Linked DNA regions of Homo sapiens: region 1 is linked to region 2. The links come from fine-mapping of genetic effects on gene expression. A gene starts in region 2. The other region holds a variant in brackets. All regions are shown on one strand. Distances are between the middles of the regions.

Region 1 (3,015 bases), 100 kb before region 2:
CGTTATTCAGATACTGAATAAACAACCAAAAAAACATTGTTTTATCAATGAGGAACCTGTTAAATCTACATAATACAGCTATAAAAATAATTATGTAGTTCTATAATTACCGACATGAAGACATCTGAGTAAAAACCTATTTCTGATGTTATAGAAGAACAAGTATAGTACACTCTTGAATGTAAATTTCTCTGTGTATGCATTCATATATACTGTACATTCAGAATCCTGGAAAGGGGCTTGCACAGATGTTACCAGTGTATGTCTCAGAGTGACAGAAGGACATATGAGTTTTCCTTTTCCCTTATACTTCTTTAAAAACACACTGATTTTTTTTGCACAATGAATATCAATCATATTAACATATAAAGATTTAATTTTTTCCCCAGAAGAAAACAAAAAGATTGAGCTTTGTGTACCATCCACGGACAAAAATGCTATGTGTTTTGCAGACTCAGGTAGTAGTCCCTGCGTGTGCTGGGGGTGAGATGGGGAGGAGCCGCTGATTTCTCAGCAGGCCACACCACTTTCTTCCCTAGCAAAGCTGCACAATGTTTTCAGCAGTGTCTGCAATGAGAGCTAAATGACCTCCATCTAGAACAAATGTAACCTGGGCACTTGCTCTTCCACGGATGCTCATGAGTAAAAGGAAGCTGGAGTTCTTTACAAAAGAAGCTTTGCTATGAGAAATAAAAACAACAAACTGTTTTTTACAATTTTTATTTGGTGTTAACTCCACAAGAAAACAAACAAAAAAAAATCAGTTACTCTGGTGTACGTGAAATCAGAACAATACAACCACGGGAAAAACAATCTCAGCCCAGGAATGGAAACTGGTACTTCAGTGCTATGGAAATGCAATGCGCTTCATACCACAGTGCGTTTCAGCGTTTGCCAACTTTTTAAAAATGCTTTTTCTTTGTGATCATCCATTCACAAAACTAAAAAGCCACACTTTCATCTCTGTTGCTGAAAGCCTCTGAGCTTCAGCTACTTAACTATGAAAACAAATAAATACATAATTTGTGAATCCCTTTGCTCACTTCGAATCCGTCCCATTCACCTGTGGAAGGTGCTGCATCTTCTCACCTGTGTCTGAGGAAGTGTGCACCTTTGCCACCTGGAGCCCTTTCCTAATAAACAGCAGCTGTCCAAAATCAACTGTGCTCAAGGTTGTGTCTGAAATCTATTTATTTGGTCTTTGCTACACAAGCAACGATTTCTAGAATAATCGTCACTGTAGTGATATGAGGAATTTACAACTTTCAATCCTTTTTTACTTTTGCTGTTAAATTATATTTCAGTGCAGATGCTTATCAATTTTTAGGAAGCTCCAGAAGAATGAAAAATACATAAAAACGTATCTGAAGTTCGTAAATAAATAACAGCAACATAAAACCTTACACATGCGCGCGCGCACGCGCGCACACACACACACACACACAC[ACC/C]CACCCACCTTAAAGTGTCAAAAAATGTGTTGTATAAAAATAAACCCTAACACGTGGGAAGATCGACCCGGCGGGCACACCAGGTCCCTCTCGGTGAGGACACACAGACCCTCAATGACTCCACAGTCTTTGATGGTACTTTCTTTTCTGTGTTATCAATTAAGAAAAAGGCAACAAAACCCAAATGTTCAAAGCAAATCATAGATTTCACAGCCAGTTCAGCTCCCAGCTAATAAATTATATGTGTGTTTACTGCCTGCCCAAATGAGTGGTGAAGCTGTCTAGAGCGCATCAGACTTTTCTGCCATTCCTGATGCTCCAGGCATGCTACGCTGATTTCACAGATTAGGTTTTTTTTGTTTTTGTTTTTTAAACAATGAGTTGGTTAAAAAAGAAAAACAATGTAAAAAATGTAAAATGTTTCGGCTGTGCACATACTGCTCCTCCTGGCCTCTGCCTGTGGCACAATGCCATGAGAGCCGGAGGAGCGGATCGCCATGCACAGACGCGACTCACAAGATGCGCCGGCTCCCCGGGCTCACCAAGGAGAAACGGGAGCCAGTCCCACGGAGCGACAGTCAGCAAAACCACCACACAGGGATGTGGAAAACTCATGACTCTACCCGCCCCAACCCACCACACACAGAACTTGCCCAGAACATTCTCTCAAACACAAAATGAGATCGAAGCTATACTACATCACAGCCAAGAAGCGGCTAGCTGCAGCAGCCAAAGATTTCTCTGGGTGATGAGGTGGCCTTTACTGCATGTCAAATGTTCACAATTTCAAGTTTTGGGGGTTTCAATTCAACATAGGTCACCAGAAAGTAACAATCTGTAACTAAGGTCCTTAGCACGTATGGAACACTCACCACAAAGAACCCTGCATGGGGTTTTGGTGTAAATGTAACTGCAGTATGAGAGCAGGTAAGGGGTGGGGTATGCACCCTTACCCCACTGTGTCTCGCATACGACCCCACACCCCAAATCCTTGGCTTCTTCAGTTAGCAAGAAAGTCACGAACCATAGTATCTTCCGTGATACTTTAGGGGAAAAGAAATCCTAAGAGAGAAAACACAGTATTTGGTGAGTCTTGAAAAGCACACCTCTGCGGTTCCTACTGGAAATGTACATGAGATTTTGCTGAATGGAGACCACCGCTGAGTCACCCAGGCTTCCCTCTCGCCTTCAGAAAGGCATCAAGCCACTGTAGGGTAAGAATGGATATCCCAGTTCTTGGAGAACAAAGCCTAAATGCTCCAAAGCTGAAGTCTCTGAAGAGCAGAAGTGGTTGTTGACACTGCAATGCTAGTAAGGTCATAGTGATATAACCGCAGTCGGAAGGAAAATTAACTGCAGTTAAGATGCAAAAAGCAGTGATACTTCTAAGACAAGCACATGCACACCCATTCTTGATTTGACAACACAATCTAGTCTATTTCAAATAGCCAAGAATTTAACAGCTGGGAAAAAAAATCTTTAACAGGATAGCTGTCCTCAACTCTAAAATAAGCAAGAAGAGAAAGATAATTATTACCAATCTGAATCAGTTAATTGAAGAGGAAAC
Region 2 (2,500 bases):
TGAACAGTAAGTCAAAGTATCCAACCCAGGTAATTATTAGCAAGAACTACATTTATATAATTTTTTCCAAAGAATCTCGCATGCCTCCTCTCCGCTGAATCTCCCTCCTGTTTTTAACTGGGTTAAATCTTTATAGCTTGCCTATAGAGGACAAAAACGGAAAGGTGGCAAAAAAGAAATCAAGACAGTTCTGCCATGATTTAGGGGTCTGTACCAAGAGTTCGGCAGGTCCTGTCACCTGCGCACCACAAGACGCAAGCTGAATTCTAGGGCAAGACGAAGCATTCCAACACGACACACACTGGTTTCTCCAGCGGGAAGAAGCAGAGAGCTCTAGAAATGCCGGCTGCAGACGCGTATTGTTGGAAAGGAGCCGGATCAGGCCCCGCAGCAACTCGGGGCGCCCTCGCGACAGGGTTTGCCGCGCAGCGCACGGATGACTGTGGGCCTGTCACTCCTAGCTCCAGCTGTAACCTTCGCCAAACCTTGCGCCGCACCGGCCCCGCCCGCCAGGCCCGCCCCCCGCGCCGCGCCCCGCGCCATAGGCCGGCGCGCCAGTCGCTCAGCCGGCCTCCCGGCCCCGCCCGCCTGCGGCCCTCCTCCCCCGCCCGGCGGTTTTCCCTTCCCGGGGCCCCAAAAGGACAATGCTGGAGGGGAGGGGAACGGAGGGAACGCGAGCGAGCGGCCCAGGCTGCCGGCCTGACCCCGCTGCCGGGGACGCCGGGCGCCTCCCACCGGCCGAAGCCTTCCTCCCGCGCCCACTTTCGGGGCTCTACGTCCTATCAAGTCTAAGCACCCCCGCCTCGTCTCCCCTAGAAGAGCCGCCCCGGCGCGGCGACACCTGCCCCAGGCAGGAGGCAGCCAACGGCAACCCATTGTGCGGACTCATCGTCCACAGCCCACCCGGGCGCAAGAGCCGCAAGCTGGTGTCCCGGCGTCCTGGGGTCGGGGCGGGGGTCCCAGGGCCCACAGCTCACCCGCACGCCCGGGCACCACCAGGATCGGGGCCGGTCAGGCCTCCCTCGGCTGGCCCCGGAGCCATCAACAGCGGCCCGGTCTCCCTTAGGCTGGCCCCGGAGCCATCAGCGGCGGCCCGGCCTCCCTCAGGCTGGCCCCGGAGCCCCCGGCGGCGGCCCGGTCTCCCTCAGGCTGGCCCCGGAGCCCTCGGCGGCGGCTCGGCCTCCCTTAGGCTGGCCCCAGAGCCCACGGCGGCGGCCCTGTCTCCCTTGGGCTGACCCCGAAGCCTTCGGCTGCGGCCCGGCCTCCCTCGGGCTGGCCCCGGAGCCCCACGGCGGCGAGCGTCCGGCCTCCCCGGCCCGCGCCCACCCGGCCGAGGGGCTGCTCCGCGCCCTCCCTCCCCGCCGCCTGCCCGCAGTACCTGCCGAGGCTGCCGGGCGGCGCGGCGGCCGGCGGGGGCGCCTCTCCTCTGGCTCCGAGGGGCTGCGGGCGGCTGCCGAGCGCCGGGCGGCCCTGGCCTGCGCCTTACGTAAAGCGGCGGCGGCGGCCCCAGCGCCACTCCGCGGAGGGCGGGAGGCGGCGCGCCGGGAGCCGCTCCGCTCCGTTACCCGGCAACTGGCCTCAGCGCCCCGCCAACCAGGGGCGCGCTCCATATCCTTCCGCCCGGGTGCCGGGATTACATCAGCGCCGGCCGGTCCCCGCCCCTGCCCCTCCCTCCGGCTGGGCTGCGGGCGCGCGCGGGCGGTGGGCCGCGGGCTGACGGCGCGAGGGGACAGGCCGGGGCTGGTGCCTGGCGGGTGGGGGTCTAGGGCCCGGGACGCGCCGTGCAGCTTGGCCGGGGCGGCGGAAGCCGCTGGGAGGTGAGAGGGCAAGCAGTAGAGAGGGCAGGCAGGAAGCGGGAGCCCCCCAGCGTGCTGGGCGTCGGAGAGGAGACGTCTCCCGCGGAGGGGCACGTGGGACTGCCCTCGGCAGAAGCCCCCGAACTCTGCCGCCGCGCCCCGCCCCCGGCCCGCGCTGGGGAAGTGGGGCTCGGCGTGCACGGCCCCGCCCGCGGCCCGGTGCAGCCCCCGCCTTCCCGGGCTCGCGCGCCACCTGTCCGCGCCCCCTCCTCGCCGCGTCCTGGGATGGCTGGAGTAGGCGGCTTAAAATAAAGACTTTAATTTTTTGTTGTTGTTGTTAAGGAACCCAGAAGACAAGCTAAAGAAATGTGACATGGCTCTTTTTTTATTAACTAGGCAAAAATAAATTCTGGAAGCTTCGAAAGTGGAAACCAAAAATGTGCATTAACCTTTTAATCAAAGTGTCTTCACAGCCACCTACCTTCCCTAAATGTGACTCCTAGGCCTGTTCTAAAAAAGCAAATAAGTATCATGGACCTGGAAAAGGAAGGGAGATTACTTAGAAGAAAGAGGTCCAATGGGAGGAGTGACTTACCTGGGGTCATTTGTTCATTTATGCAGCACCCACTAGGTGCCAGGCACTATGCTTTTCTGTTCAGAACCTGTTGGAGAATTTCCTGCACCAGCTCACGGGCTTGTGGGAG

The links.
Region 1: its variant is fine-mapped to the expression of KIAA0232 in whole blood (INTERVAL, PIP 0.98).

Annotation. Positions count from the first base shown.
Region 1 is chr4:6,881,059-6,884,073 of GRCh38, reverse strand. KIAA0232 reads right to left here. Exons shown (of 10, transcript NM_014743.3): 10 at 1-3,015. Among named protein-coding and RNA genes, the nearest start is that of TBC1D14, 27 kb to the left of the region's middle. The variant ACC/C (reference allele first, on the strand shown) is at 1,447.
Region 2 is chr4:6,781,720-6,784,219 of GRCh38, reverse strand. KIAA0232 reads right to left here and starts at 1,493. Exons shown (of 10, transcript NM_014743.3): 1 at 1,379-1,493. RefSeq lists silencers at 404-1,173, 1,234-2,113.